7 separate regions of the Homo sapiens genome follow, and regions 1, 2, 3, 5, 6 and 7 are each reported to be linked to region 4. The links are microRNA targets in miRTarBase. Many come from high-throughput screens and were not tested one by one. Region 4 holds a microRNA gene; each other region holds the end of a gene's coding sequence.

Region 1 (4,074 bases), not on the chromosome of region 4:
GAACGAGGTCAGGAGATCGAGACTATCCTGGCTAACACGGTGAAATCCCATCTCTACTAAAAATACAAAAATTAGCCAGGCATGGTGGCATGCGCTTGTAATCCGAGCTACTCAGAAGGCTGAGACAGGAGAATCGCTTGAACCCCGGAGGCAGAGGTTGCAGTGAGCCGAGATCGTACCACTGCACTCCAGCCTGGGCGAGAGACAGACTGCATCTCAAAAAAAAAAAAAAAAAGTTCCTTTCCTCAGTTTGCACTAGTCACATGTGGCGAGTGGCTACCATACTAGACCGTATAGGCACAGAACATGGCTATCATTGCAAGAAGTTCTGTTGGACAGGGGTGTGGGAGTGAGTGGGGCTCTCACCCGGCTTCCTAGGAGGGAATAAGGGCCAGGCATCTGGGGAGGTGGGAAATGATGATACATTGCCCGAAATGCCACTAAGAACTCTCTTTTGTTTCTCAGGATAACAAAACCAAAACGTGGCCACCCAAAGCACCCTGGCAGCACCCTTCCCCGCTTCCCAGCACGCTGCCCAGCCCCAGCGCACCACTCTATGCAGTCACCAGCCCTGGCAGCCAGTGGAACGACACCATGCAGATGCTGCAGTCCCCAGTGTGGGCCGCAACCAACGACTGCAGTGCCGCTGCCTTCTCCTATGTGCAGACCCCACCCCAGCCCCCACCCCCACCAGCACACAAGGCAGCACCCAAGGGCTTCAAGGCCTTCCCTGGGAAGGGTGAGCGCAGGCCAGCCTATCTGCCCCAGTACTGACCCCAGGCCAGCCAGCCTGCCTGCCTGCCTGCCTGCCCGCCCAGAGCTGTGGGGATGAGTGTCCCCACCCCAGGGCCACTTAGCTGACACCAGCCCCTCAGAGGACCAGTGCGCCCCATCCCAGGGAGGGTTCCTTGGGGACAAGGGTGGTTGGCAGCTCCAAGCCTTTAAACCTGGCTTCTGAAACGATGGCATCAGAGCCCTGGAGAGCCAGCTGGAGACACAGGCGTCTGGCCTTCAGGGGCTTGCTAGGGAACCTGCATGCCTAGTAAGCGCCACAGGTGACTCTGATGCAGGCGCCACAGCCACACTTGAAGAAACACAGCTCTTGGGTTTTTAGTCCTGCTGTGTGTTGGGAAGACATCAGGCCTGAAAGCTGAGGGCATAACTGACCATTTTTTGGAAACCCTCTCCTCCCTCCTCCACACCTTGAGTGATGACCACACCAATCACTGTATTTTATAGCTTTTTTTTTCATGTAGGTTTTTAGTTAAAACATCTCCTGCCTAAAATGCATTGAATATTTTAAGATAACAGATATACTGGCTGGAGGTTTGTTTAACACTATCTATATTTAAGCTTATACAAAATGGGCAAAATATAGAATATTTGTGATTGGAAGCAGTCACCTGGGGTTTCTGGGGGTGGACAGTTCCTCGCCACCCAGCAGCACCCTGGGACTGCGGCCTTTCCCAGCTTTATTGAAGCAGAATGGTGGAACTTGTGCCGGAGGTACACTGCTGAAGGTGCGTGGCGGTGGACCAGCCAGCTGCTGTCCATGTGCAGAGCAAGGCTGCACCTGCTGCCCTTCGATCCTTCCACACATGGCCAGGACACTGCCACAATCCTCGGGGTGTGGTCAAGGGGCACTCAGAGACACCTGCACTAGAAATTGCATTGACATTGTGAGCTGGCTCAGAAGACAAACCAATTAAGATGTAGATAGAAATTAATTTAAGGTCTTTTCTTAAAAAAAAAATCCACCTCATTTTCAGTTAACATGTGCCATTAAATAGATAACATCCTGTGGATTTAGGGATATTTTCCAGCCAGAATGGATCCAGAAGAATTGAATGGTGCTTAAATTGAGAAATAATAATAAATATATCTATATAGAATAGACATATCCCACTGTATATTAATTGAGGTTACAGAAAGTTCTTTATATAAAACTTATTTAAATTTTTCATATTTCATCTTTGAAAAAGTCTGAGAAAAATCCATAATATTTTCTGGTATGAAAGTTTGACAGTATTAATATTTTTTTTATATTTTCTTAAATCATTAAACCATTTTAATATATGTTAACTACTAATAAATGGTTTATTCTTTCTAACTCCATATAAGCTTTTCCAGCAAAGATTGTAATAACACATTTATGTTCTCGTTTTTCTACAGATATAAGTAAATTTATATATAAAAATACCAAAAAGAGGCTGGGCGTGGTGGCTCACGCCTGTAATCCCAGCACTTTGGGAGGCCGAGGCAGGTGGATCACCTAAGGTCAGGAGTTCGAGACCAGCCTGGCCAATATGGTGAAACCCCATCTCTACTAAAAATACAAAAATTAGCCGGGTGTGGTGGCGTGCGCCTGTAGTCCCAGCTACTCGGGAGGCTGAAGCAGAAGAATCGCTTGAACCCGGGAGGCGGAGGTTACAGTGAGCTGAGATTGTGCCACTGCACTCCAGCCTGGGTGACAGAGTGAGATTCCGTCTCAACAAGAAAAAAAAAAAAGAATATATATATATGTATGTATGTATGTATGTAAACACACACACTAATTTGAGAGGACCCGTAGGGTGTCTGAGCCCAGCCACCTGAGTTTTTAGTACTGTGTTGTCAGGCTCTTCCCAGGCCTCAGGTGTTGTCTTTTGTGCTGTGTGGGGATGCATTGCTGCCTGTATTTATGATCTTTTGCCGTGGTTCTGAGCATTCACCTCACCATGTTTACAAAGAACTGTTTTGTATATAGACATTTTCAGGCACGTGCTTTGCACCAACCCTGCGTGGCTCTTGTCTGTGTTAGCTGTCACGGTGTGCACACTAATCTCTGTTAAAGTTGTCTATGGCTGTTCTACTTGTAAGATAGTTTTCTATTTCCTTCAGTAATGTGTCCACAGTACCCTGTATTTCGAGTTCCATTATACTGAAGTACTCATGTTTTAATAGTGCCTCTCCAAAGGCCTCACCTTGGACAGAGGTCAATCCTTGATGCTCCAGCACAGGTGACGTCACTAATTGTCACTTTCCAGTTTGTTTTTCTCTATTAAGGAAGACATTTTCTAATTGCATCTCCATGGGCTGTGAGACTGTGTGAAGCCGTTTGTGTGGTCTCCATGTAGGTGCTGTGTTCCCGGCACCGCCTTGCTCTGAACACTGGTAATTCCAGGTGCTGCGCTTGGCAGAGGGGTCTCGCCAAAGCGCATGTGTGTGCATGTGTGAACGTGTGTGTCCTTTGCATGGTTGGGCGTGGGTGCCTTGCTAGGGCATCAGCAGGACATTGTGTGTATAGTTACAATGCTTCCAAACTGGAACTCTACATTTTGTATCTTTTAAAGCTCCTATAAGTAAAATAACTATTGGCTTTATTAAAAATATACATTTAATAATACTTTGTATCCTTGTTTAAAATGAACTGCAGAGGACATTATGTCAAAAGCCCTGCCTGACTCATTGCTTTGAAAAGCTGCATACTGAGTTGGTTTTTAGGTCAGCCTGTCCTCTGATTCTAGCAAGGGGAAGACCACTTGGGATATTACGGTGAGCTGAAGTGGATGGGCAGGAGGGAGAACAAGCAGCTACGCCTCCCCTATTGGCTTCCCTAAGGCCCAAGCTGGTTTAGGCCCCTGTGCAGGGGGAGCCAGTGCAGTAGTGAAGGAGACGTCCTCTGCAAGGGTGCAAGCTCTCTGGGTTGGGGTCTACCAACACCCATGTTCCACCAAATGTGGATGCTGTGACTTGCCCAGCCAGCTTGTCCAATGACGAGACCCAAGAATGAGGGCTTGTTTTACCCTCTTCCCAAACCAGGGACCCAATCTATGGCAGAGATACTGTGCCTTACAGGGATAAGAAGGACCTGTCTCTGCCGGCCGCAGTGGCTCACACCTGTAATCCCAGAACTGTAGGTGGCTGAGGCAGGTGGACCACAAGGCCGGGAGATCGAGACCATCCTGGCCAACATGGTGAAACCCCATCTCTACTAAGAATACAAAAATTAGTCGGGCATGGTGGCGTGTGCCTGTAATCCCAGCTACTCAGGAGGCTTAGGCAGAAGAATCGCTTGAACCAGGAAGTCAGAGG
Region 2 (4,074 bases), not on the chromosome of region 4:
CATCTCTCTCTCTCTCTCTCTCTCTCTCTCTCTCTCTCTCACACACACACACACACACACACACACACACACACACACACACACACACACACACTGAGTTTCAGGCCAGGCGCAGTGGCTCATGCCGGTAATCCCGGCACTTTGGGAGGCCAAAGTGGGCAGATCACCTGAGGTCAGGGGTTCGAGACCAGCCTGGCCAACATGGTGAAACCTTGTCTCTACTAAAAATACAAAAATCAGCCAGGCGTGGTGGTGCAGGCTGTAATCCCAGCTACTTGGGAGGCTAAGGCAGGAGAATCGCTTGAACCCAGGAGGCAGAGGTTGCAGTGAGCCGAGATCGCACCACTGCACTCTAGCCTGGGCGAAAGAGTGAGACTCTGTCTTAAAAAAATAAAAACAAAAGTAAAAATAGTTTAAAACTAGGAGCAGCCTGAAGGCTCCTCATGCCAGCGCCATCCTCCGTGCACCTGCCAGCGCTTACTGACGCCGTCTCTGGGTCAGGTGTTCTGAGGCTGCTGGGGATACACAGAGACCCTGTGTCCAAGGCAGCCCACACATGCTGACTGTGGGGGGGTTGGCCTGCACCCGCGGTCCCTTCCGTAACTAAAGACTGCGGTGTCGGCCGCCTCAGGCATGGCTACTAAAGACCCGCACAGACGGCCACATAGTGTACACTCCAATTACAGGATCTGTCTGGAAGGCAGGTCCCTGGGGACAGAAGGTAGACGGGTGGGTGCCCGGGGGAGGGGGAAGGCGGGTTCACGCTAACGGGCACAGGGTCTGTTTTCGGGGTGATGAAAACGTTCTGGAATTTGCAGTTTGACAGTTGCACAACCTTCTGAACATACAAAAAAACCACTGAATTATATAAAGTGGTGAATTTTATGGTATGTGAATCATATATCCCATTTGAAAAGCAGACTGACAAAAATTTGTTTCTAGGCAGGAAACAGGAAACTGGGGAAGCCAAGTGTAGCTTTACCCTACTCAGGGAGAACAGTGTTGGAGAGAAAGCTGTCAGCTTTTAGAACGCGATGGCAAAAGCTGTGTGTGTGGCAGGGAGAAGTCTTGGGGCTTTTTGCAGCAAGGAAAGTTCTGGGCAACCTTCGTGGCAGTGACTCCCCCTCTGGAGCCTCAGCTTCAGCAAAGGACGAGGGCATGTCCCCAGAGCAGCCACAGTCAGGCCCAGATCAAGGTTTCAACCCACGGGGAGGCTGGGCTGGGGGCTCCGTGCAGGGGTCGAGCCACAAGGCATCTTGAGCCTCCCCTGCAAGAGCATCAAGATGAAAGCCAGGGATAATTAACGCCGTCAGGCCTGGGGCGACTCCACAAAATCCTTTGTGGCGGCCTGAAAGAAAAAGCAAATAGATGCAAAACCCATCTCTGGTTTCTAGGATAGAAGGACCTTTGAAATTATAAGACATTAAAATAAAGCTTCGGGTAAAAGGACTGTCATGTTCTAGCTGCAGATTTGATGTGAGATCAAAACGGAATTGCTCCTGAAAGCCCAGGCACCGGCCTGCTGTGCAAAGCGCGCCCCACCCCAGCGTGCAGAGACGCGGCCCCGGACCCTTGCGGCTCATCTCACCTGAGGCTGCCGTCTCTCCTCCAAGGGCTGGGGGTCCCCTTCTGATCATCCTTCTCTGCTTCTTTGTCCCCTCCACTTTTTTTTTTTTTTTGAGATGGAGTCTTGCTCTGTCGCTCAGGCTGGAGTGCAGTGGTGTGATCTCGGCTCACTGCAAGCTCCGCCTCCCAGGTTCACGCCATTCTCCTGCTTCAGCCTCCCGAGTAGCTGGGACTACAGGTGACCGCCACCACGCCTGGCTAATTTTTTTGTATTTTTAGTAGAGACGGGGTTTCACTGTGTTAGCCAGGATGGTCTCAATCTCCTGACCTTGTGATCCACCAGCCTCGGCCTCCCAAAGTGCTGGGACTACAGGCATGAGCCACCGTGCCCAGAATGTTCTGTTTTTGTTTGTTTGTTTGTTTGTTTTTTGAGACAGGGTCTCGCTCTGTCACTCAGGCTGGAGTGCAGTGGTGCAATCACGGCTCACTGCAGCCTTGACCTCCCAGGCTCACATGATCCTCCCACGACAGCCTCTGGAGTGTCCCCTCCACTTTCTTTCTTAGGGGCCCCTCAGGGACATGTCAGAGGCCTGAGACTACTTGGGGGATGTCTATGGGCCAGGCAGGCTGCCAGCAGCTGAGCTGTCCTTGCCCTGGGGCTCCTCTGCAGTCAGGGAGACACCAGGCATGGGCCTGGCTTGGATGCATCAGTACTTGACTGCAAAGACTTAAACCACAGACAGGAAAGGCGCTGCTGCAGTCTCGACGGTCAAATGCAGGGCCCCCTCAGCTGCCATCCCACTGAGGGGCGAAGGCCCATCATCTCCCTTCGGCTCGGTAACTGCCTGGCGTAGCACAAGGGTTCTCTTTAAATCCCCAGCAAATGGAGCTGAGTGGAAATTCCGCCCCATATTACCAGGCACACGTCTCCTTCCACTCCTCACTATACCCTGCCCATGCCACGGCCGCCTTCTGAGAATAACGCTGACAGTTCCATGGCCCACAGCCCCTCTAGTTAACTTGCTGTGCACACGGCAGCCCAGCCAGAAACACGCAGCCAGGTCGGATATTGGGTGCATTCAGTCGTGAAGCCTGAGGCTTCCTGGCTCCCACTGAGCACAGAGAAGTGTTCTGAAGGACAGGAAGCAGCTGGCCTCACTGCTCTTCTCAGACGGCTGATGGAGAAAAGCTCACAGCTGCCTGCGCCGCTCTGCCTGGACTTGCATCCTCGGCCCCACCCCTTGCGCAGCAGTGAGGCCCCCCGAGACACTGGTGCCTGGGCTTGCGGTACCGCAGGGCTGCTGGACAACGGGCCAGACGCAGCCCCAGTGTGGATCCAGAGGTCTCTCTCCGTAGCAAGCCATGGAAGCACGACGGGCACTGTGCTGAGAACCCTGGTCTGCACTTCTGACCTGGGGCTCTGGCTGTGCGGTTCTGCTGAGCTCATCCGAGAGTCCACGCGTGCATGGCGGAGACCTGAGTCAGCGGCAGGGCCACCCCGTTATGGGCACCCCAACCCCTTATTAGGGGTGTTAATCAGCACAAATGAGCAACTGGCTCATCAGTCGGTGCAGGCTGACAGGTGCAGGAAATACGGAGGGCAGGCGGGGTAGGGGGCACGGAATGCTTCCCAACATGAGGGCATCTCAGGCCAGCAGGCGGGGCCCAGAGACCCAGAAGCACCACAACTCCCCCGTGTCCACAAGGCACTTTATGCATTCAAAACCACCGAATTCACACCCAGGTTTGCTCAGACAGAGGCCCAGAGGCGACCCCGCTCTGGCGTGGCTACCACCTGAGCGGCTGGCGGCCCTGGCCCAGCTCGGCCTCCGCGTAGGCGTCATACAGCACCTTCAGGTGCAACAGCAGCTGCTCCAGGTTCTCGCCGGTCAACGCCGACAGCACGATGACCTCCTGTCCCAAGTGATCCCGGAGCTGGGACAGATTGGCTTGGGCTTCAGGGAGGTCAATCTTGTTTGCGACGATTGCGTGGGGCCTCGCAGACAGGCCCTTTTCATACATCTCCAGTTCATATTTTAAATCGTCAACTTGAGTCCACGGCTCAGGCTGAGAAAGATCCACCACGAACAAGAGAAAGCGGCAGCGCTCGATGTGCCTGAGGAAGGCGGACCCCAGACCCCTGTTCTGGTGGGCGCCTCGTATGATGCCGGGGATGTCGGCCACTGCAGGGAAGACAGGGGCACACGAGGTGACCACTTGGCACACCCAGCACCCAAGAGCGCCTTCCACCTCGAGCCTGGGAGAGAAGGCCTGGAGCCCACTGCGAAGGCGGATTTCCTGAGTTCTAACACTTTCCTTTCAAGGAACGCCTTGAACTGAAGCCATTTGATTTAGCACCTGGGTGATTCACTGGGCCAACTGACACCTGAGGAATTCAATGCTTGGAGATGTTTGGGAGACCAGCGTGGCGATGGATCTATCTAGTAGAGTACATTTCATACCTTCTCTTTCTGCTTCTAATAGGATTCAAAAAAGAGGAAAATGGCT
Region 3 (4,074 bases), not on the chromosome of region 4:
ATCATCATCTCCATCTCCACCATCATCTCTATTATCAACACCATCACCATTCTAAGTGACTTGCCCAAGGCCACATGGTCAGTGGTGTAGTAGTCTCCTCACCAGGGTGCTGTCAGTCCTGCCTGAGAAGTTTCACTGCAGCCTCTTATCCTGGTGCTGGATCTGCAATTTAACCAACATGTTCAGTAATTTGTGTATATTGTTTGTTCAAAGGGCAAAACAACCTGTTTCCCGAAGCTTCCCATTACTCATGAAAGCATTCCAAGGGACTTCCCCCAGCCCTTCAAAAACCTGTTCTAACCACCTCTAGACCAACCATGGCACAATGGTCACTCCTTCCTCTTGGCCCAATACACCCAAGTATGGCACCTGTATTTCTAATACCTACCACTTTACATGACTGTCATTCCCACTGGGCTAGTCCTGTACATTTTAATTCACTGATACTTAGCAAAATGGCTGGCTATCAGCCCAATAAATGTTTATTGAATGAATGAACACTATATTGAATGAAGAAACAAGACTGAGCTGCATTATTTGGTGTAAGAACTCTAACTGCCCCACCATCAGAAATATGTGAATTCCTAATATATTCCTTTTATTTTCACCACTTGAATTTATATTTATCAGACACTTGTCAATATTTTCTTTTATAATATTAATGAGAATCTATTAAACCACTCCATAGTCAGAGATGAGCAACTGCAGAAATGACAGGAGAAACAGCAAGAACATACTCAATGCAACCAATTGGCCTGAAAAGGAAATGAATTTAATTTTTTCCATGCCTGCGACTTTATGCTGTTCCGCACCCTCCCCAAGTGGGTGAAAGTAGCCATTTAAAGCATACATGTCAATACTTAAGACTTTAAAATAAAAAGTAAAATGGTTTTGAAATAAAAATAGAAATTATTTACAGAGCCTGTCCTGATTTGCTAACTGCTTTGGAAAAAACTTCCAGCTCTGAGTTGTGAAGCTTTGAGGGACCCAGAGTGACTGACAGCAATTCAGAGATGAGGGGCCTTTCAGCCAGAAAGGGGGACATCAAGCCACAGGACCTCAGGTCCTAGCCACCCTCTACTCCCTAGGTGGGAAAGAAGAAATCTCTTGCAGCCTTGGGCTCTGGAACAGGACAGATATTCCACAGGCCAAATGGACCTGCACTGGTGTCAGTGGACGGTAGAGGATGCTGTCCCAGTTAGAGCAAGGATGAGGTCCAAAGCTTAGCCCTGCCACTTCGTAATGAATGACCTTGTATGAAGCTTCTCAGCCTGCTGTTCCTCTGTGAAATGGGAAATGATACTGCCTACCTCGGGGGACTGTAAGAAGGAATAACAGGTTATTATGCATGCTGAGCACAAGACCTGGCACACAGGTACTCAATAAACAGCATGTGGTTTTTATTGGGTGGAGGGTGGAAGGCAATCCAGAGAAGGAAACAAGCCCAGGTGTGCACTAGGGCTGAAGGTCACTCAGATGGTCTGAGACACTGGTTCTCAACCCTGACTGGACATTAAAATCAGAGAGGGAGCCTTTAAAATACCAGTGCTGGCCAGGCATGGCGGCTCACACCTGTAATCCCAGCACTTTGGGAGGTCGAGGCGGGCAGATCACGAGGTCAGGAGATTGAGACCATCCTGGCTAATACGGTGAAACCCTGTCTCTACTAAAAATACAAAAAATTAGCCGGGCGTGGTGGCAAGCGCCTGTAGTCCCAGCTACCCAGGAGGCTGAGGCAAGAGAATGGCCAGAACCCGGGAGGCGGAGCTTGCAGTGAGCCAAGATCCTGCTACTGCACTCCAGCCTGGGTGACAGAGCGAGACTCTGTCTCAAAAAAAAAAAAAAAAAAAACAGTGCCAGCCTCTTTATGCCTATTCAATCAGCATCTGTGCGGGCAGGGCCCAGGCATTTTTTAAAAGCTCCTAGGAAGATTCTAATAGGTAGTGAGGGTTGAGATCCTGTGCTTGAAGCTAACAGAGCTGGAGACAAGTAATCATTGAACACACTTGCTAACAGTCCATCAAAGGAGGTCCCCGGCCCAAGAGTGAGGCCATCTCGGTTTCAGAATTAAAAGAAAAAACAGCCTTAAAATAGTAAACTTACCTATTTGCTAATCGTTTATACCATGTGCTAATAAAACACATCATAATTACGAAATTCTCAGAATGTAACCACTCTGGAAAAGTCATAACAAAGCTCAAGTGTTTATTAAGAATTAAAAATACTGTAAATAAGCCATACAGTTCATTTCACAGTAAACTAAACAAAACTTTTTTTTTTTTTTTTTACTTTTCGGGTTTTTTTTTTTTTTTTTTTTTCAATTTTTTTTGGAAGGGCAAGACAGCCATTAAAGAACAATACAGCTCAGAGGGAAGGGAGATACAGCAAACAATTACACAAACGCAGTATGCACGCTCCTTGCCGACAGGGCTGCCCAGACGGCAAACCTCTTCATGGACATCATGTTAAAATAAAAGGACTTGGCCTGCATTCCCCAGGGAGACCCCCTATTCCACTGTAGACAGCTCTCCTCACGAATTTTTTGAAAGAACCCAAGGACTCCCCTTTCTGGTAGTCGAAACCTGTGCATTCCTTGGTGACCTCCGGAGAGAGAACATGGGCCGGCAGTGGGGACAGAGGGCACCGGGACTCTGCTGGGTGTAGTGCTTCACATTCAGAACCGCCTGGATGCTTTGCATAGTTACCTCTGATATCACAAGATGCGTCAGGAAGAGAAACGACACGCACACCATGAGGGAGGCAGCCCTCAAGCAGCGGATTCCTTTCAAAGAAAGACCCAGGGGCTTCTCCCCTCCTCATTCAGAGCTGACAGCTATGAGCTTTAACCGGTTCAAAGTGGAAGACAAGTGAGAGATATCTCATAAAAATTTCGGCCAGAACAAAAAAAAAAGTAAAATTAATTTTCCTTAAAGACAACTAGAAAGAAAAGGGTCCCCCCAACCCACCTTTTTTTTTTTTTTACTTGAAATCTGCCAGCCAGACAGGATTTCTGAGGTTAATCTGCTTCTGTTAATCCTCAATTTAAGCCTTTATCATTTTTCTCTGACTAGAGACATCCATGAAAAGCCACCTGTTATTCACAGGGGCTGCGCTTCAGGAAACCAACCAAATGCAGAAGCAGAGAACTTAAATATTGTAAATAAGTTAACTGGGCATGAAAATACAATGCCTTGGTGTTCAGGTGGTGACAACTGCTCTTTAAGAGGGGACAAGAAATTGGGGGGTAGGGGACACATGGGAAAAAACCACACATTTTTTGGTCATGAGAAATTGGACTTTAAATCCGCGCCCTGCACACGCAATTCATTTAGACCTTTTCGTGAATCTTCTCCACTTTCACAAACAACCTATCCAGATCATTCCTCAGGTCATCTAGTAAACCCTTGGCTGATTCCAGATTGTTCTCGTTGGTTTCTATTTTGACCGAGTATGCAACCAAACTGTCCACAGCAGTCCTGAGCATTTTCAAGTCCGCCTCCACTTGGCTGACTGAGGCTTTCAGGTTGTCTAGAGAAGAAAGTCTGTCCAGGAAGTCCTGAGGAGGCAGACGGGCGGCCTGGGCTTGGTCCTGACTGAGCAGCGTGTGCACCTGCTCCTGCACCTTCTGGAGTGATTCCACGGTGCTGGGGAGCTCGCCCACACTCCTCTTCAGCTCCTCCACGTCACCGTAGAGCACCAGCTGGGTCTCGCCCAGGCTCCTCACCGTGCTGGCCAGGCCATCCTGGTCTGCCTCTGAGGACCCGAGGCCTTCCAGGCGCCCCTGCAGGGCGGCCAGGCGCTGCTCGTGCTCCTGGCTCTTGGACAGGAGGGACTCCAGGCTCTCGGTCTGGCGCGCAGAAGCCACCTGCATGGAGAGCACCCCATCCTCCACGTGCTGGAGCCTGGAGTCCAGTCCCTGACTCTTTTGCTGGAGTGCCTCAAAGGCTTCCGAGTGTCTGAAGCCTCCGTCCTCCTTCGGCCCGTGGGAATCGGACTTCAGCTGGCGGAGCTCTTCCTCCAGTCTCCGGATCTCCTCCGGGAGGCGGGAGACGGACTCCTCAGACCTGAGAAGCT
Region 4 (4,074 bases):
TTCATTAGTCCATGCTTGACTCTCTTTGATCTTGTTTATACATGCATCCATTTATGTTTAATTACCCCATAAACATATATAAACCCACCCCAGCCTGCAAATATGAAAAATAAACATAACACATATTACGTATGTGATATATATATAGGATACATGTATAAACATAACACATGATACATGTGATATATATGTAGTATACGTGTGTGTGTGTGTGTGTGTTCCTTTTTTTCTTTGCTCATTTGCTACAGAGAACAGCCCAGTAATATTGTTTTTTAATTTGGTAACAGTTACGCTATATGAAATTAATCACCCTTGGTTCATGACATTCTCATCATGCCCGTCATCTTTGACCTTATTTATGTATTGATTCATGTTTAATAATGTAATAAACAACCATCAACCAACCACCCAACTTCAAAACAACAACACTAAACATTACTCACATTGGTTGGTTCATGGCTCATTTTCCACAGAGGTCACAATCAAGATCTTCATCGACAAAGTGTCATTAATTTCACTCTGGAGCCTCCATTCTGTGGAACACAAGGCTGATATTAAAAAGGATGAAAAAACCTAGATTTTTTTAATGGCCATCAGGTGAGAAGCACAGTATTAATCATAATCTTTGGTTCATGACAGTCTCACCACTGGCCCAAGCATAGCTCTCCGCAATTATTCATTTATTAATTTGTATTATTACAAATGAGTGTGTATTAATTCACCACTCTAATCAAAAACAAGAATCATGACTCTCACAAACATATGTCCCTGTGCATCTTACCCAAGAAGGAACCAACCCAGATATTCTTCCTAACGGATGCAGATGACGCAGACTTGGAGTGACAATCATATTTGATTCCTACTCACCCTTTTCAATGTTTTCATTTATTTTTTTAAATACAACAAACACAGATGAACCCACCACTGACCCAGACCAAAAATATTGATTAGTACATCCAAATACTTCTTATCCACTGAGGTCAAAGTCTTGTTTTATTTTATATAGTCCACAATTGTACACAAATGGATAAATCTTAATCTTTAGGTCATAAAACACTGTCTTTGTGGTCCATTCTTGACATTCTTTCATTTCGTCACTTTTGTACTCATCTAATTCATTTTTGACTATGCAGCCACTACACTTGAAGTCACCATTTAGCCCAAGACCAGTGACTATTCTGTATACCTGTTGATACACTTCCTACCCTCAGCCTCAACAGCCTAGAACCTGGCTTTTGTTTTGGAATAACCTCACAGAAGCAGAGACTAGAAAGGTAGTTACTAGGGGTCAGGAGTGAGAGGAATCTGGAGATCTTAGTGAGAGGATGCAAACTTAGGAGTAAGATGCAGTTAGGAGTAAGTTCTGGTAACCCAATGCAGAGTACGGTGACTATAGTTAACAATAATGTATTTCATGCTTGAAATTTGCTAAAAGAGTAGACCTTAAGTATTCTCACTGCACACATGGAAAAACGGAACTACATGAGGTGATGGGTATGTTAATTCGCTTGATTATGGTAATCATTTCACAATATATATGTATATCAAAATGTCACACTGTACAATTTAAATACAATACAAATACATACAATACTGATTTATCAATTATATATTTATAAAGCTGGGGAGTGAGGAACACATTGCCATCATTGGTACATGCTTGGCTGTCTCTGGTTTTATTTACGCATTCATTCATTTTTAACTGTTCAATCAACACCCACAAAGCCGGCTTTTATTTGTCTGCACTCACCTTCTCTGGGAGAGAAACCCCAGTGTGCCCATTCTATGGAACATAAAGCCGGTTAAAAAAAGAAAATAGCCTACGAGGCCTTTTTTGTTTGTTAATATCAGGTTACCAGACCTGGATTAGTCATAATCCTTTGCCCAGAACACATTCTCAGAATTGTTCCATTCGAGGCCTTTATTACCTTATTTCTTTATTCCTTGATTATTTTTAATAACAAAATTAATAGCCACGAACCACTCTGATTTCTTTTTTTAATGCCCCTCAGTTGTGAAGAATTAATCACCATCCCTGGTTTACAACCCACTCCCGTCCTTGCTGCTGGCATGTCTCTCTCTTCTTGTATTGATTGTTAAAACCACCCACGAGAATTACCACTGGTGGTCCCCACCTCCATCCCTCCCCCTCTCATGCCCCTGCCTCCCTCTACCTTAAACAATCACTCCCAAATCTCCTGGATACAATCCCTTTCCAGATATATATATATATAAATTTACAACATATATGTAATATATGTATTCTTAAATATTTTCCATGGGTCAGTGGCTTGCAGGAGTTTTCAGTGAAGGCTAAAGAGAAGGGTCGAGGGAGAGTGTGAAATACACAAGCTTGAGTTCAGAGTACACCCACTGCTGGGGGGATTGGTAAAAGCCCTCAAACCCAGATCACTGAGCCATCTGCACCTGCGCACACACCACGAGCCAGTGGGCCCAGTGGTTGCAGCACATATGCTCACACCTCAGTACCCACCTCCCAAATCCAGCCTCAATGCCAGACGAGCTGGGTGACATCAGCAAAGCAAACTAACGTCTCTGTGCCTGTTTCCCCATCAGCAAGATAGTTGCAGTGGGGGGTCCCCAAGCAAAGTTATGTTATTATTTTCAAGCCAATGGCAACCAGGTTAAAAAAAAATACAAAAAAACCCTCCATCCCACCTCTGAGCCCCCTCCCTCACCCAAATCTTGGCTCCCTCTGCAGCAGCGCCCGAGCTCTGGTGTTAGACAGACAGACAGACCAGGTTCCACCCCAGCAGGCACTCGTGAGCTGTGTAACTGCAGAGACGTGACCTGGCTTCTCTGTCTTGTGCCCCGACTTGTACGGTTTGTAGAATGAGGAATGCAGCGCCCTCGTGGGTCCAACCGGAGGGTGACCTGAACTATCGCCCATCCCTCAAGTAGCCCGCCTTGCACACCTGCGCACACCCCACCCTTTCCCCGTCCCATGACGCCCAGCCCACTGCTCAAACAGTCCCCAGTTTGATCAAAGAAATGAATTAGTTCAATGCTCAGATCAAGCCAAGGGTTTGGGACTCGGGCAGGGAATTGTTCGGGCATGTTCTTTTTTGGACATGGCATCAGAGCTTAAACAAATACACTGAAAAACAGAAATCCAACTAAGGGATGTGCTTTGGAAAATGAAAATTCATTTTGTGAAGTGGGACTGCCCTTGGGGAAGTCTATGCAGTGAGATTCTTGATGTTCAACTTGATTCCAAGAAACCAAAAGAGGCTTCACTATGGGCCTTACCAAAGATACACAGCCAGTTTCCTTCTTACCCCTCCCCCCAGCTTGTCCTGGGTGTGTACCACCTGCCACAACTGGCCTCAGAGCAACTCAGGGACCTGAAAATAATTCTATATATTATATAGAGTTATGGTGTAGGTGTATAACGTCATTTACACATCAATCTGTCCATTGGGGGACTGTCATGAGGGAGTCGTGGGAAGACCACCAGTGTGGGGACCTGCCCCTGCCTTCTTCATACTGTGAGGCCTTGGAGAAGGCCTGTCCCCTCCCTGAGCCTCAGGTGGCGATCGTCCCACCAGCCTTTCCTCCCTCCTAAGTGGTGTGAAAATGAAAAGCATAACATTTTAAGTGCAAGTTCCCTCCAAGCAGCAGGGATCATTAATATTGTACCTCCTGTACCCAGCACGTAGTGTTCACAGCATGCCTCAGCATACATTATCTCGTTTGATTCTCACAACAGTCCTGTGAATTAGACATAATAATCATAATTAGCCAATATTTATTGAATGCATACTCTGTACCAAGCACCACACTGCCTACTTTGCATACATTGACACTCCTCTGGGGTGGATACAATTCAATAGTATCTCATAAATTTTTCCCCAAAATTTCTGAGCATGCACTTTGTATTGTTGCTGGGTCTAAGTGCCAGGGATACAGTAGTGAGCAAAACGGACAGATCCCGGTTCCATGAGAATTAACATCCCTGTGGGTGGAGATAGGAACAGAAAATCATCAGAAAAGGTAAGCCTAATGCATGGGATAAAAGATGGTGGTAAGAACTAGGGAGGAAAATAAAGCAGG
Region 5 (4,074 bases), not on the chromosome of region 4:
GGCGCTGGCAGAACGGAGGTGCGCGTGGAGCCTTCGCCAAGGACCTGGGCCCCTACGTGCTGCACGGCCGGCCATACCGGCCGCCCAGTCCCCCGCCACCACCCAGTGAGGGCTTCAGCATCAAGTCCCTGCTAGGAGGGTCCGGGGAGGGGGCACCCTGGCCGGGGCTAGCTCCACAGAGCAGCCCAGTTCCTGCAGGCACAGGGAACAGTGGGGAGGAGGCGGTGCCCACCCCACCCCTTCCCTCTTCTGAGAGGCCTCTGTGGCCCCTCTGCCCCCTTCCTGGCCCCACGAGAGTGGAGGGGGAGACTGTGCAGGGGGGAGCCATCGGGCCCTCAACCCTCTCCCCAGAGCCTAGGGCCTGGCCTCTCCACTTACTGCAGGGCACCGCAGTTCCTGGGGGACGGTCCAGCGGGGGACACAGGGCCTCCCTCTGGGGGCAGCTGCCCACCTCCTACTTGCCTATCTACACTCCCAATGTGGTAATGCCCTTGGCACCACCACCCACCTCCTGTCCCCAGTGTCCGTCAACCAGCCCTGCCTACTGGGGGGTGGCCCCTGAAACCCGAGGGCCCCCAGGGCTGCTCTGCGATCTAGACGCCCTCTTCCAAGGGGTGCCACCCAACAAAAGCATCTACGACGTTTGGGTCAGCCACCCTCGGGACCTGGCGGCCCCTGGCCCAGGCTGGCTGCTCTCCTGGTGCAGCCTGTGAGGCTCTTAAGACAGGGGCCACTCCTCCCTCCCGCTCCCACCCCCACCTTGTTGACAGGGAGCCAAGGCGAGGCGGCTGTCTGCGACCACAGCAGCCTCGAAACACCAGGCAGCAGCCTTGCTGGGAGTCCACGGTGTTTATTGGGCCACCCCACGCATGGCCGTGGCCCAGCTGGGCACAACCCTCACCCTGGTCTGTCATGCCTGTTTTTCCTACACTCAGCGGCAAAGCTGCAGGAGCAGGGCTGAGCCTGGAATAGCCCTTCCTAGTCCCCTCTTCTCAGCCCACTACCCATCCATCAGTCACCAGCCGTCACCTCCCCTCCCGTGCTCCAGGCTGGGGGAGGGAGAGCCCAGTGGTGGATCCAGCCTGAAGTCCTGCCCTCTCTCATCTGTCTGGAAAGGAGGTAGCACCTTTTTCGGGAAACGGGTTAGGGAGTAAAGACTGCACCCTACATGGTCCTGGTGGTGGGGGGGATAACAGTAAAGGAATTTGCAACGTTTTAATGCCATGCCTGATTTTTGGGTCAGGAGTGGTGACTTGGGTAACCACTTGGCGGGGGGGCCTGGGATTCCCTGCTGTGTGCCGTGATAACAGCAAATGGTGATAAGGAGAAAGCCAAGACCTGTGGCCTGATGCAGGGCTGGGGGCGGGGGGTGATCACTTCAGCAGGCACAACACACTTCACTGGCTGCGGAGGTGGAGGGGTGACTCTGGGAGCTCAGGGGCAATGGATCCAAAGAGGCTAGGGAGCTTGTGCCCTGGGAGACGGGGTACAGGGACTTTACTACCGCCTCTGCCAGCAGAGACCTGGCCTGAGACCCCATGGGCAGGGCCGCGACCCAGGACTAGAGGGGCAGGCCCTCTGCGGGCGCGAGAGCCGAGCCCGAGCCGTTGTCGGGACTGGGGCATGGAGGACTGCCAGGGGACGGCGTAGGGGTGCAGGGGGTCCCGGTGAGCGGAGTGTCGGTGCTGAGGGAAGAAGGCGTCCCGGAGGAGCGCGGGACCCTGCGGCGCCGGGCTGGCCCCAGCTCCACTTGACCCACTCGGTCGGCGAACTTGAGGGAGCAGACTGTCTCCCCGAGATCCTCCGGCCGCGTGGAGATCTGCGGGCAAGAGGCGCGGGTGGGCGGGCCCGGGTGGGCGGCGACCGGCACGCACACACCTGCCCCGCCCCGGCGCCCACCTGCAGCAGCAGCACCGCGGTGGTGCCTGGGCCCAGCGCCGGCTGCAGCAGTCGCGTGAGCTGCGAGTCGCGGAAGGGCACGTGCGGCCGGTGGGCCCGCAGTGCGGCCATCACGCCTCCTAGCGCCAGCAGCGAGCGGTTTATGGTCTGGGCCTCCCGCAGGCGCCGGGCGCCGTCTGGGTCTCCCCGCGGCGGGCCGGCCGCCCCTGCCTTCCGTGCGCGTTCGGATCCCGCCAGGTCCACCAGGTGCAGCGTGCCTAGAGGGGCGAGCGAGCCCGACATGGGGGAAGGCCGGGCCTCGGGTGCTCTGGAGACTCCGCAGGGCTCAGGCACCGGCCGTGGTACCTGCGGTGCCTGGAGCGCGCGGTGGAGACGCCGCGCGCAGCGTCAGCGTGACCAGGGCATGCGAGCGGGAGCTGCGCTGGTTCATGGCGGTGGCGGCGGTGGCCCGGTTGCTCCTCCCCAGTTTCAGCATCTGGAAGGCGGGGCGAAGGGCTGGTCAGGTGCAGGGTCCCCGCCCCCAAGTGGAAGCACGGGGCGGGGTCTCGGAGAGCGGTGCAGCCCTACCTGGTGCAATGTCTCCAGGTTGGGCACGTCCCAGTGGGTGAGGCCAGCCACCTGGATCCCGCCCTGGCCTTCTGGGCCCTGCCTCACGGCCAGGCGCTCGGGAGGCCCTGGAGCAAGGAGGTCCCTGGTGAGAAAGGGGAAGGTCTTGGTTCCAGAATTCTCTGGAAATCCGGAAGGGCCCTGGGCCAGGGGTGGGGAGAAGGCCTCCCTGGTGGAGTAGCCCACCTGACAGCCTCATTGTAGATCTCCACCATGCTGAGTGTCACCCGGTGCTGCCGGCCGGCCCCCATCTCCCGGAACAGCGACTGCAGCGCCCTAGGAACTATGCCGGGGTCCTCAGGAGGGCCCTGAGGATGGGGTGGGGTGCACACCGGGCTCACATCCAAGTCATGCAGGGCCCCTGGGGCCTCTCCCACTGGGGCGTGAGCTCTGTCCCACCTCCATGCTGTAGGTCTTCCCGGTGCCTGTCTGGCCATAGGTGAAGATGCAGACGCTGTAGCCTCGGAGGCAGGACAGCACCGCAGGTTCCAGCTCTCTGAAGACCTGCGGGAGGCGGGAGAATGTGTTTTGAGTCCTCCCCACGTTGCCTGTTTATGCCCTATTTGGTGGGGTGGGGAGTGCCACGAAGGCAGGTGTGAGCAGAGCCTAGTCTCCTGGGAGGATGGCTCTAAGGGACCATGGGGGAGGGTGTGTCCTACAGAGACCCTCTGTCTCCCTAGAGAAGGTGGTGCTTGCAAGAATTTGCCAGGCAAAGAAGGGAAAAGACACAATGAGAAGAGGAACAGCCTATGCAGAGGCTCTGGAGTCCTGAAGACCACGTAGGAGACCTGGGGACAGCAGTTAAGAGCGCAGGTGTGGTGTCCTTAATGTGGAAGCCAACGTGAAAAAAAGAAAAATAAATCCCAGCATTTTGAGAGGCCAAGGAGGGTGGATTGGTTGAGCTCCGGAGTTTGAGACCAGCCTAGGCAATACGGTGAAATCCCGTCTGTACAAAAACTACAAAAAAATTAGCCAGGCATGGTGTTGCACATCTGTGGTCCCAGCTACTCGGGAGGCTGAGGTGGAAGGATCTCTTGAGCCCAGGAAGCAGAGGTTGTAGTGACCTGAGATTGCACCACTGCACTCCAGCCTGATGACAAAGTGTGACTGTCCAAAAAAAAAAAAATACATATACATATATATGTAGTAAAAAATTTTAAAAATGTTTAAAAGAGCCCAGATGGGCTGGGCGAGGTGGCTCACGCCTGTAAACCCAGCACTTTGGGAGGCCAAGGCAGGCAGATCACAAGGTCAGGAGTTCAAGACCAGCCTGGCAAACGCGGTGAAACCCCTGTCTCTACTAAAAATACAAAAATTAGCCGAGCATGGTGGCACGCACCTGTAATCCCAGCTACTTCGGAGGCTGAAGCAGGAGAATTGCTTGAACCCAGGAGGCGGAGGTTGCAGTGAGCCGAGATCACACCACTGCACTACAGCCTGGGCAACAGAGTGGGATTCCATCTCAAAAATAAAGAAAAAAAAAAGAGCCCAGATGTTGGGGCGTGACTGCACGGTTCAAACCTGGGTATGATTGGAGCTTACTCATTGGCCTTCCTGTGCCTCACTTTC
Region 6 (4,074 bases), not on the chromosome of region 4:
TGTTATTCACCTCGTGAAAAAAGCTGGATTTCTAATGAGAGCGAATGGAGGTGACAATTCCCAGAAACTGGAATTGGGATGGTGAGATTTTAGTTCAGCCGCCGGCGGTCTCATGCGTGGAGGTGATAAAGTTGAGCTTTGAGGTGGTCTTCAGAGGGAGAGGAATACCCTCTGCGGGCAGAGCTTCCTGGGTTCCGGGCCCTTCCGGACGTCAACACAGGTCCAAATGCCCTTGGGCTCCTCCGCACACCCTGGGTGCAAGAATAAATCCTTCTCTCTGCCGCCATTAGCCTGACTGGCTTCGGTTACTTCGCACAAAAAGCCCTTGCCGAGCAAACGTCCCCGGTGCTGCTCCAAAGGAGACCCCTGCCCTCCTGGAAGCTCCTCCCTGAGGCCGGGTATCCACTCGCCGCTCGCAGCCCTCGCTCTAGCTCCAGCTCCTGTTCCTTTTCCTGCCCACCCCGCCCAGTGAGGAGATCAGCACCCCTTGTCTGTCTCTGTGTCTGTCGGGGTTCGTGCCTCACTGTGTCCAAGCCCGGCTTCTATCCCTAGTCCCTTCCTGTTCGCGCCACTCCTGCTTGCTTTCTTCTCCCCTTCCCTCCAGCGGTGGTTCCAAACCTTCTCTTCCATAAGACCCTCCATTCCGTTTCCCAGAGACCCAGGGGTGCCCCTCGCAGGGGCAGAGGCGCAGCCTGTAGTGGATCTCCCTCCGCGCAGGGCGGGCAGTCTAAGGTCATTCCCGGTCACCCTGCCCCCTCGCTCCCATTGGCTCTGGGGAGGGCACGTGACTCAATCCTGGCCAATGGCGTGGCGGGGCCTGTGGCTTGCTGCCGGGCAGGCTTTTCTAGGAGCTTCTGGGGTAACGCCAGAGAAACCTGCTAACACACAAGGTTAGCTGAGAGTGAGCTCAGTGAGCTTTCCCTTTGAAGAAGGCGTGGGTGAAGGGGAGAAGGTTCAGGAGAAATCAAGGGGTCAGGAGTAGTTCACTCAGTCCCCTTTCACTCTGAAGGAGCTCACCTCTCCCCAGTACTGTCCAGTGGAAAGGCCACTCAAAGCAACTGAGAGAGACCTGCTTGTGTGAAGAGGTAGAGGTTTATTGAAATATAAACATTCGAGAACATGTAAGATAGAAAATAACCACAACATATAGACACTTGCTGCAGGAGGACATCTGAGGTATTTACTCACTGCCTAGGCTACCCATGTGCTATCACATTTTTCCTGGTTAGAATACATATAAGATGGAGAGCAGGAGGGGACAGAGCTGCCCTGGCTGATGGCACCTTCAGGGGAAGCTCTGCTTGGGCCAAGGCCCCACTCGTGGGGGCACCTGCTGGCACCCCTCATCGGGCTCTGGGTGACACCCTGCTGTTGTCCTTGAGGGCAGTGAGGGTTCACTCCAACGGTGTGGCCAGGCGAGCTGCCTGGGGAAAGGGAGAGGATCCAATGACCGGAAAGACACAGTGTGCTTTCCCTGCATCCTCTGGGTGGGAAGAGTCCATCCTTTGTGACCAAACCCCTGAGAAAGACATACTGGCCAAATGTCTGAGACACCTTCAAATGGGCCCAGTGCCAGCCAACTGGGCTCCTCACTGGCACCACGTCCCAGATGCCCTTCTCTGCCCACACCCTGCAGGCTGAGGCCAGAGGAGGTCAGCCCTCGGGAGATGGGGTATGTGTGTGTGTGTGTGTATGTGTGTGGGAGTGGGGGTGAGTGTGTGTGGAGGGCTGAGAGAAGACGCAGTTGAGCAGAGCTGCAGCTTACCGGGCTGAGGTATCTGTTTGTGCTCAAGCTTTTGATTCCCTTTCCTCTCCTACACAGGACTGAATGCGAGCCACGCTGCCACACACACCCACGCCACGCGCGGTGTCTCCCACTGCCACAGCCCCATGTCACAGTGGTGGTGTTCTGCTGAACATTCCAGGGCTTCCTCGACTGAGGTGAGCCGCAAGCGAATCAATTTTCTTTACAGCACAGGAGCTGCCTGCTCCCGCGCAGGGTCCAGGAGGAGCTGTGGAGTTATTCATCTCCTCATACCCTGGGGCGGCTCAACCTCTGGCAAGGCCAGCGAGGACCCCAGCCTGCCTGTGCCCTGAGCTGGGAATGCTGAGTGATGGGGAGGTGTCCTCTGCCTCCCTGGTCAGCTGGGGGTGGGGGTGTGGCAGAAAACGGTCTTCAGAACTGGTACAGTTTCAGGGCCCGACCCGGTGTGAGAGCGGGCCTCTCCACTCCACCTCCCCGCCCCCGCGATCCCTGAGTCGTCTCCCCTGCATGCCTCCACCCACCTCCTCACTGGGCTTGAGGGAAGGGCCAGAGGGGCCGGGTTACCCAATCACTTGCTTGGCTTTGGGGGTGATCTGTTTTCATTTCTTTGGTGCTACGATAAAAATTTTAAAATAAAAAAAAAACAAAAGTCAGCAAAACACATATAAAAAAGATTTCAGAGATGCAAATACTTCCTGAAGACTCAAACATCAACAATTACAAATCTGAGGTATTTCAATGAACCTGACATCGGCACGTGTGGGGATGGTGAGGCCAAGATGGCCCCATAAGAAATAGAAGAGGGCTGAGCTGAAGAAGGCTGAAGAAGGCTGGGGAGGACTGGGGAGGGCTGAAGAGGGCTGGGGAAAGGATGAGTGGGCTGTTTTTGGGAAAGCAGGCCAATAAGGGCAAGTGGGGAGCATGAGGTTTGGCGGGGGCGGTCAGAGAATGGTCCGTGTGAAGCAGGTGCCAGGGCTGGGCAGCCCCGAGGCTCTGCCTTCCCATCAGCAGATGCCCTGTGGGCCCTGGCCCTGAACTGCCCTCACAGCCTCTTCCTTCAGACTATTAGAAGGGGGATCTGGGGCCCTGAGGACTGATTCAAGACTTGTGTTTGAGGGACCCGTACCCCAGGAACCTAACAGTAGGCAAAGTGGGCTGGAAGGGCCCCATCCCATGCTCTGCAGAGAAGGGCATGAAGGCATGCTCTTGGCTCCTGGCAGCCCCACATGGGACTTAAAAACAGGGGAAGAGACTAGTGGCCCTGGGGTCATGGCAGAAGGCAGGGTCAGGGAAATAAATTAAAAGGGGAGGGAAATGGAGGGCCTCCAGCCCTGCGTCGGCTGACAGATTGTCGATACACTGTGCCCTGAGCTGGGAGGTGGCTGGGGAACCCTGGAGGAAGCTGGACACCCACAGACCCCCACCCAGTTCTCCAGGACAATCCCTGATTGGACAACGCTGTCTGTCCTGCCCCTCTAGCCTCTCCCTGCCCCCAGAGTACAGCAGGACCTGAATGGAGCCTGGACAGACGGACACGTCCAAACTCTCAATGTCTGGCCAAATGGTGCTCGTCGACGTGGGCTCTGTGAGATGAGGTAAATTCTGTGCATCAACTTCCTTCACTCTCGACAGGAGAGTGGCAAGTGGGAAGCTGGGTCCTGCCCATCAGAGGGACCAGCTGGTGGAGGGCTCTGCGCTGGGGGTGCCCCGGGATGAGGTAGGACTTGGTGAACAGTGAGAGCTGCTGCTGCTGCTGGCGCTGCTGCCGAGGCTCTGGGGAGCAGACCCCGTGATGAGGTGGACCACAGGCTTCTGGGCAAACAGCACACCTTGGTGGGTGGAAGAGAAGCAAGTGTGGGCAGAGGAAGAGCGAAGGGGAGGGCCAGCTCCTTTCAGTAAGTATTCACCGCTGGCCTAGCCTGTGCCTGACTCCGCTGTAGACACTGTGCTAGGGGGTGATGGGAGAAGATCCAAATGCTGTCCTGCCTTGAAGTGCTGATGGGCTGGGGAGGGGGACAGATAGGTCGACAGAGTAATTTTGCTAAAATGTCATAAATGCTCTGAGACAAGGTGTACCCAGGGTACACAAAGAGGAACACCAAGGCCAGGTGTGGTGGCTCACAACTATAATCCCAGCACTTTGGGAGGGTGAGGCAGGAGAATAGCTCAAGGCCAGGAGTTTGAGACCAGACTGGGCAATACAGCAAGAGCCTTGTCTCTATAAAAATTTTTTTTAAAATTAGCTGGGCATGGGTAGTCCCAGCTACTCAGGGGGCTGAGGCAGGAGGATCACTTGAGCCCAGGAGGTT
Region 7 (4,000 bases), not on the chromosome of region 4:
ACTTTTCTGTGCCCTGCTGACGTGACTGACCCGAGAACCTCACAGAGAATCCTCGAGGTGCTTCCTGGCAGGAGAGCAGATGTGATTCTGAGCGACATGGCGCCCAATGCCACAGGGTTCCGGGACCTCGATCATGACAGGCTCATCAGCCTGTGCCTGACCCTTCTCAGCGTGACCCCAGACATCCTGCAACCTGGGGGGACATTCCTTTGTAAAACCTGGGCTGGAAGTCAAAGCCGTCGGTTACAGAGGAGACTGACAGAGGAATTCCAGAATGTAAGGATCATCAAACCTGAAGCCAGCAGGAAAGAGTCATCAGAAGTGTACTTCTTGGCCACACAGTACCACGGAAGGAAGGGCACTGTGAAGCAGTGAGGATTTCTTGTGCCATTTTCATAATGGTCATTAGCTCCTTTTAAGCTAGAAACGTAGCCTGAGCTCCTGAAGAGTTCCTGGGAGATTTGAGCTGATTTTGGAGATGGAGCAGGACAAGTGGGGAGTCTCTCTCTCTCTTTCTCTCTCTCTCTTTTTAACCAAAAAGAGATGACAAAACTAAGTTCAGGGGCCATGGAAAATGAAAAAGTCCGCTATATTGTGATTTGGGAAGAGAAAGTTATCAAGAGAAAGAGGTGAGGATGGAAGGATGGAGAAAAACAGACTGTGGGAAGGATCAGAAGGAATCCGCCGAGGCAGGGATGGGTGTGCCCATGTGTGCCTTGACGGGACTTCATCTTATAGACTGTTAAACTGTCACACACAAACAGGCTTTCCACCCCTGCTCTGAGAGCACCACGCACAGATTTCCAGTTCTTAGTGTGGCTGTTTAAAGTAGAAAATCTGGGGGCTGGGTGAGGCCACTCATGCCTGTAAACCCAGGGCTTTAGAAGGCTGAGGCTGGGGGATTGCTTGAAGTCAGGAGTTCAAGACCAACCTGGGCAACATAGCAACACCCCCCATGTCTACAAAAATGAAAAACCAAAAAGCAAACCAAAAGAAAAATCTGAAATTTCCATCTGGGGATTAACTTCTGTCTTTCTGGTGAACAATATAGCAATTCACGCATTCTTCAAGCAGCAAAAGTTCCCGGAACAATTAGGGAAGACGTATGGTCTGAATTTATCCAGGCAGTGGGTCTGCTTTGGTTTTTGCTGGAAATTTATATCAGTGTCTGGGCTCCCAAGAACATAAATGTAATTGCCAAAGCAAGCAGTGATGTGGTGTGTTTATTTTCTTTTACTCATCTAGGAACTTGACGCAGCTTTATATTTAATAAAATAATAGAGATTGCATTATTTTAAGGTACTTTCATGCTTTGAAGTTTTGTTTTTTTTAAACTGGCTTCCTCAAAGCCATTTCCTGGAGGTGTACTCATCCCTCAAGAAGAGTTTGTTGACTATGATTAAATTCCAAGGACCAGTGGGGGAAGTCTGGAAACCCAGGAATCTCCATCAGGAATCTGGGGCTCTGTCCAGCTCCCCGAAGGAAACTGCGGGTCAGATGTTTTGATTTTTTTTTTTCTTTGAGAAACAGAATCTCACTCTGTCACCCAGGCTGGAGTGCAGTGAAGTGATCTTGGCTCACTGTAAGCTCCACTTCCCGGGTTCACGCCATTCGGCCTCAGCCTCCCGAGTAGCTGGGACTACAGGCGCCCATCACCACGCCCGGCTATTTTTTTTTTTTTTTTTTGTATTTTCAGTAGAGACGGGGTTTCACCGTGTTAGCCAGGATGGTCTCGATCTCCTGACCTCGTGATCCGCCTGCCTCGGCCTCCCAAAGTGCTGGGATTACAGGCGTGAGCCACCGCGCCCGGCCGCCAGATGTTTTGACTTTTCATTTTATTTCTGGTTGCAGTCAGGTTGTTAAGTCCAGGGACTCTTGCCCTACTCCACCTCGTTCTCTTATTCCATTTCATTCCCGGGGCACACAACTTGGAAGTCTTTCTCTGAAAGAAGGAAAATTCATTGCAGACCCTTAGGAACAGCATCTTCTTAGAGGGAAGCCAGGGGCTGGGCAGAGACGGGAGGAGGAGAGGAAGAGAATATGGAAACGAGTAAGGCACACTCTTCTCAGGAAGGCTCCAATTTGAAGGATAGACAAAGGTTACCATAATAATGGTGGGGCCTGACCTCACCCCATTGGATGCTGTGCCCTGGCTTGCAGAGCACTGGGAAGGTAGCCTAGTAGCATAAATTGCATTTCTAGTGGGCCCAGAAAAAAGCAAAATAACGGATTGATTCAAGCTGATACTGAGTAGCAAAATTTTGGGAAGAGTCAACGGTGCAAGTTTGTCCGAGGAGGCTGCCGTGGGCGCGGCTATTCCACACATTACGGCGCGAGGCGAAAGCCTTAGTGGAAGCGCGTCCTGCGCAAAGCCGGGGGGCCCCCGACTGCGCCTTGGCTCAGCCTTCGGTTCCGAGTCCTTTCCGTGCGGAGTCTCCCAGGGGTGGCGGCTCCGGGTGCGGACGCGGAGTCCCCAGGATCAGCCGGTGCGCAGACTCGGTTCTTTACGGCCCGATTGCCACGCAGGTCTCGCGAGAGCGCAGGCGCAAGTGTCGCGATAAATGGGCGCCGGCGGAGCGGAGGGAGATCCGAGCGGCGGCGGCAAGCTGGCTGCGAGCGGCTGAGGTAAGCGGCCCGGCTCGCGCGGGCGGCGGGGTCCCGGGGTCCCGGGGGTCCCGGGAATGGCAAGGGAGGGGCCGAGGGCCCGGACCGGGTGTGCTCGCCAGGGTGGGGCACAACGACCCAGACCCCGTGCCTCAGGACCCCGCGCCCGCCCCGTCTCCCATGGGCGCGCTCTCCTCTCTGTGCTCTCCCCTCCTCTCCCCACTCCCCTGTCCCCACTCCCCCTTTGGGCTGTGCTGGGGACAGCGGGCCCCTCGCCTGGGTCTCCGCAGCCGTCCCTTGTGCCAGGGCGGGCGGCCGAGGGGCGCGTGCTCGTGGTCCCAGCCCCGGGGTCCCGCTGCCTACCGTGTGGGTCCCCGGGCTAGGGTGCCGGCGCGCCGAGGAAGGGGCCTGAGCTGGCGCCTGGTGGAGAAGTCGGGGCTGCAGGGGCTCTTGGCATCCTGGTGGCTCGCGCCGGTCCGCTCTCAGGAAGGGGGCGTGTGGGCCCGGTTTCCCCTCGGGGATGGCAAGGGCCACCCTGATCTCGTTTGGGCAATGGAGGAATTGGGCTGTGGAGCCTCCTTCCAGGCGGGCCTGCCTCTGCGGGGCTGGCAGCCTGGGGAGCTCAGGCCTCTGCTTGCACCAGGCCAAGGTTCTTGTTAAATGGAAACTCAGAAACTGTGCAGCTGCAGAAGTTCTACCTTTGGCTTTTAAACGCGCTTGGCTGTTCCCTAGTTGTGGCTGGTGGGCCGGCCTGCCATGAGCCCATAGTAAGCGCCGGTGTTGGGGGTGCAAAGTTCTTTACTGCGGTTTGTCTTCAGCCTTCCAAAGCCAGACAGACCCAAGTTCCAATCTCCGTTCTGTAACTTTTTGAAGCTTCGGTTTCATCATCTCTAGAATCTGTGTAAAAAGACCTAATTCACCACCCTGTTGAGACTGAGCTTACAAATATAGTGCTGGTCAACCTGCAGCCGTATTCCCATCATCTAGCGGTGGAAGACTTGAGGGATATTGGCCCCGTTCCCCACAACTTTGCAAGTAGATTTCACTGTCATGAGTTTACAGATGAGGAAACTGAAGTTCAAGAAGTCTCGGTGCTCGGAAATGTCAGATACCTTTCTTTCTGATACCTAGTTGAAAATAGTAGTAGTACTTATTAATGTCACTAGAAATAAACAATGAAAATGAGCACAGCTGTGATGATCATCATCTTTACTGTCACTGTTGCATGCCTCGTTTCTGATTCCCAGAGGCCAGATTTTTTTTTTAATTAATTATTATTATTTTTTGAAACGGAGTCTTGCTCTGGCACCCAGGCTGGAATGCAGTGGCGCGATCTCAGTTCACTGCAACCTCCATCTCCTGGGTTCAAGAAAATCTCCTGTCCCAGCCTCCGGAG

Evidence for each region. The annotated mature microRNA hsa-miR-370-3p reads GCCUGCUGGGGUGGAACCUGGU and lies in region 4 at 2,758-2,779, opposite strand. An mRNA with a match to its seed (bases 2 to 7 or 8) in the 3' UTR can be bound and repressed. Matches are read on the target gene's strand: a 7mer-m8 pairs with bases 2 to 8, a 7mer-A1 pairs with bases 2 to 7 and ends in A, and an 8mer does both.
Region 1: miRTarBase lists GARRE1 as a target of hsa-miR-370-3p. Seed matches in the 3' UTR shown: 8mer at 3,265-3,272.
Region 2: miRTarBase lists MTG2 as a target of hsa-miR-370-3p. Seed matches in the 3' UTR shown: 7mer-A1 at 1,770-1,776 and 7mer-m8 at 1,519-1,525.
Region 3: the mRNA of CKAP4 is a reported target of hsa-miR-370-3p. The part of its 3' UTR that is shown has no 7-base or 8-base seed match.
Region 5: miRTarBase lists FOXH1 as a target of hsa-miR-370-3p. Seed matches in the 3' UTR shown: 7mer-m8 at 1,380-1,386.
Region 6: the mRNA of ARID3B is a reported target of hsa-miR-370-3p. Seed matches in the 3' UTR shown: 7mer-m8 at 1,365-1,371 and 7mer-m8 at 1,330-1,336.
Region 7: the mRNA of MRM2 is a reported target of hsa-miR-370-3p. Seed matches in the 3' UTR shown: 7mer-A1 at 483-489.

What each region holds. Positions count from the first base shown.
Region 1 is chr19:34,352,182-34,356,255 of GRCh38, forward strand. GARRE1 (granule associated Rac and RHOG effector 1) reads left to right here. Exons shown (of 14, transcript NM_014686.5): 14 at 466-3,385. The coding sequence ends at 774. Among named protein-coding and RNA genes, the nearest start is that of GPI, 11 kb to the right of the region's middle.
Region 2 is chr20:62,200,358-62,204,431 of GRCh38, reverse strand. It overlaps MTG2 (mitochondrial ribosome associated GTPase 2), which reads right to left. Exons shown (of 7, transcript NM_015666.4): 7 at 864-3,749. The coding sequence ends at 3,355. Among named protein-coding and RNA genes, the nearest start is that of HRH3, 18 kb to the left of the region's middle.
Region 3 is chr12:106,235,696-106,239,769 of GRCh38, forward strand. It overlaps CKAP4 (cytoskeleton associated protein 4), which reads right to left. Exons shown (of 2, transcript NM_006825.4): 2 at 2,186-4,074. The coding sequence ends at 3,329. Among named protein-coding and RNA genes, the nearest start is that of CKAP4, 10 kb to the right of the region's middle.
Region 4 is chr14:100,909,891-100,913,964 of GRCh38, reverse strand. MIR370 (microRNA 370) reads right to left here and starts at 2,826; the gene lies at 2,752-2,826. It overlaps MEG8 (maternally expressed 8, small nucleolar RNA host gene), which reads right to left. Exons shown (of 51, transcript NR_146000.1): 8 at 3,661-3,732; 9 at 444-533.
Region 5 is chr8:144,470,877-144,474,950 of GRCh38, reverse strand. It overlaps FOXH1 (forkhead box H1), which reads left to right. Exons shown (of 3, transcript NM_003923.3): 3 at 1-1,539. The coding sequence ends at 713. It overlaps KIFC2 (kinesin family member C2), which reads right to left. Exons shown (of 18, transcript NM_001369769.2): 13 at 2,905-3,009; 14 at 2,692-2,813; 15 at 2,467-2,590; 16 at 2,245-2,374; 17 at 1,900-2,156; 18 at 749-1,819. The coding sequence ends at 1,562. Among named protein-coding and RNA genes, the nearest start is that of FOXH1, 2.9 kb to the left of the region's middle. RefSeq lists enhancers at 1-651, 652-1,547 and a silencer at 2,450-2,509.
Region 6 is chr15:74,595,131-74,599,204 of GRCh38, reverse strand. ARID3B (AT-rich interaction domain 3B) reads right to left here. Exons shown (of 9, transcript NM_006465.4): 9 at 1,074-3,594. The coding sequence ends at 3,431. It overlaps CLK3-AS1 (CLK3 antisense RNA 1), which reads left to right. Exons shown (of 9, transcript XR_007064715.1): 9 at 1-286. Among named protein-coding and RNA genes, the nearest start is that of CLK3-AS1, 19 kb to the left of the region's middle. RefSeq lists enhancers at 623-917, 192-1,080, 1,696-2,196.
Region 7 is chr7:2,231,497-2,235,496 of GRCh38, reverse strand. MRM2 (mitochondrial rRNA methyltransferase 2) reads left to right here. Exons shown (of 3, transcript NM_013393.3): 3 at 1-1,302. The coding sequence ends at 375. It overlaps MAD1L1 (mitotic arrest deficient 1 like 1), which reads left to right and starts at 2,552. Exons shown (of 19, transcript NM_001013836.2): 1 at 2,552-2,625. RefSeq lists enhancers at 1,167-1,699, 2,434-2,563, 2,349-2,643 and silencers at 2,278-2,656, 2,634-3,053.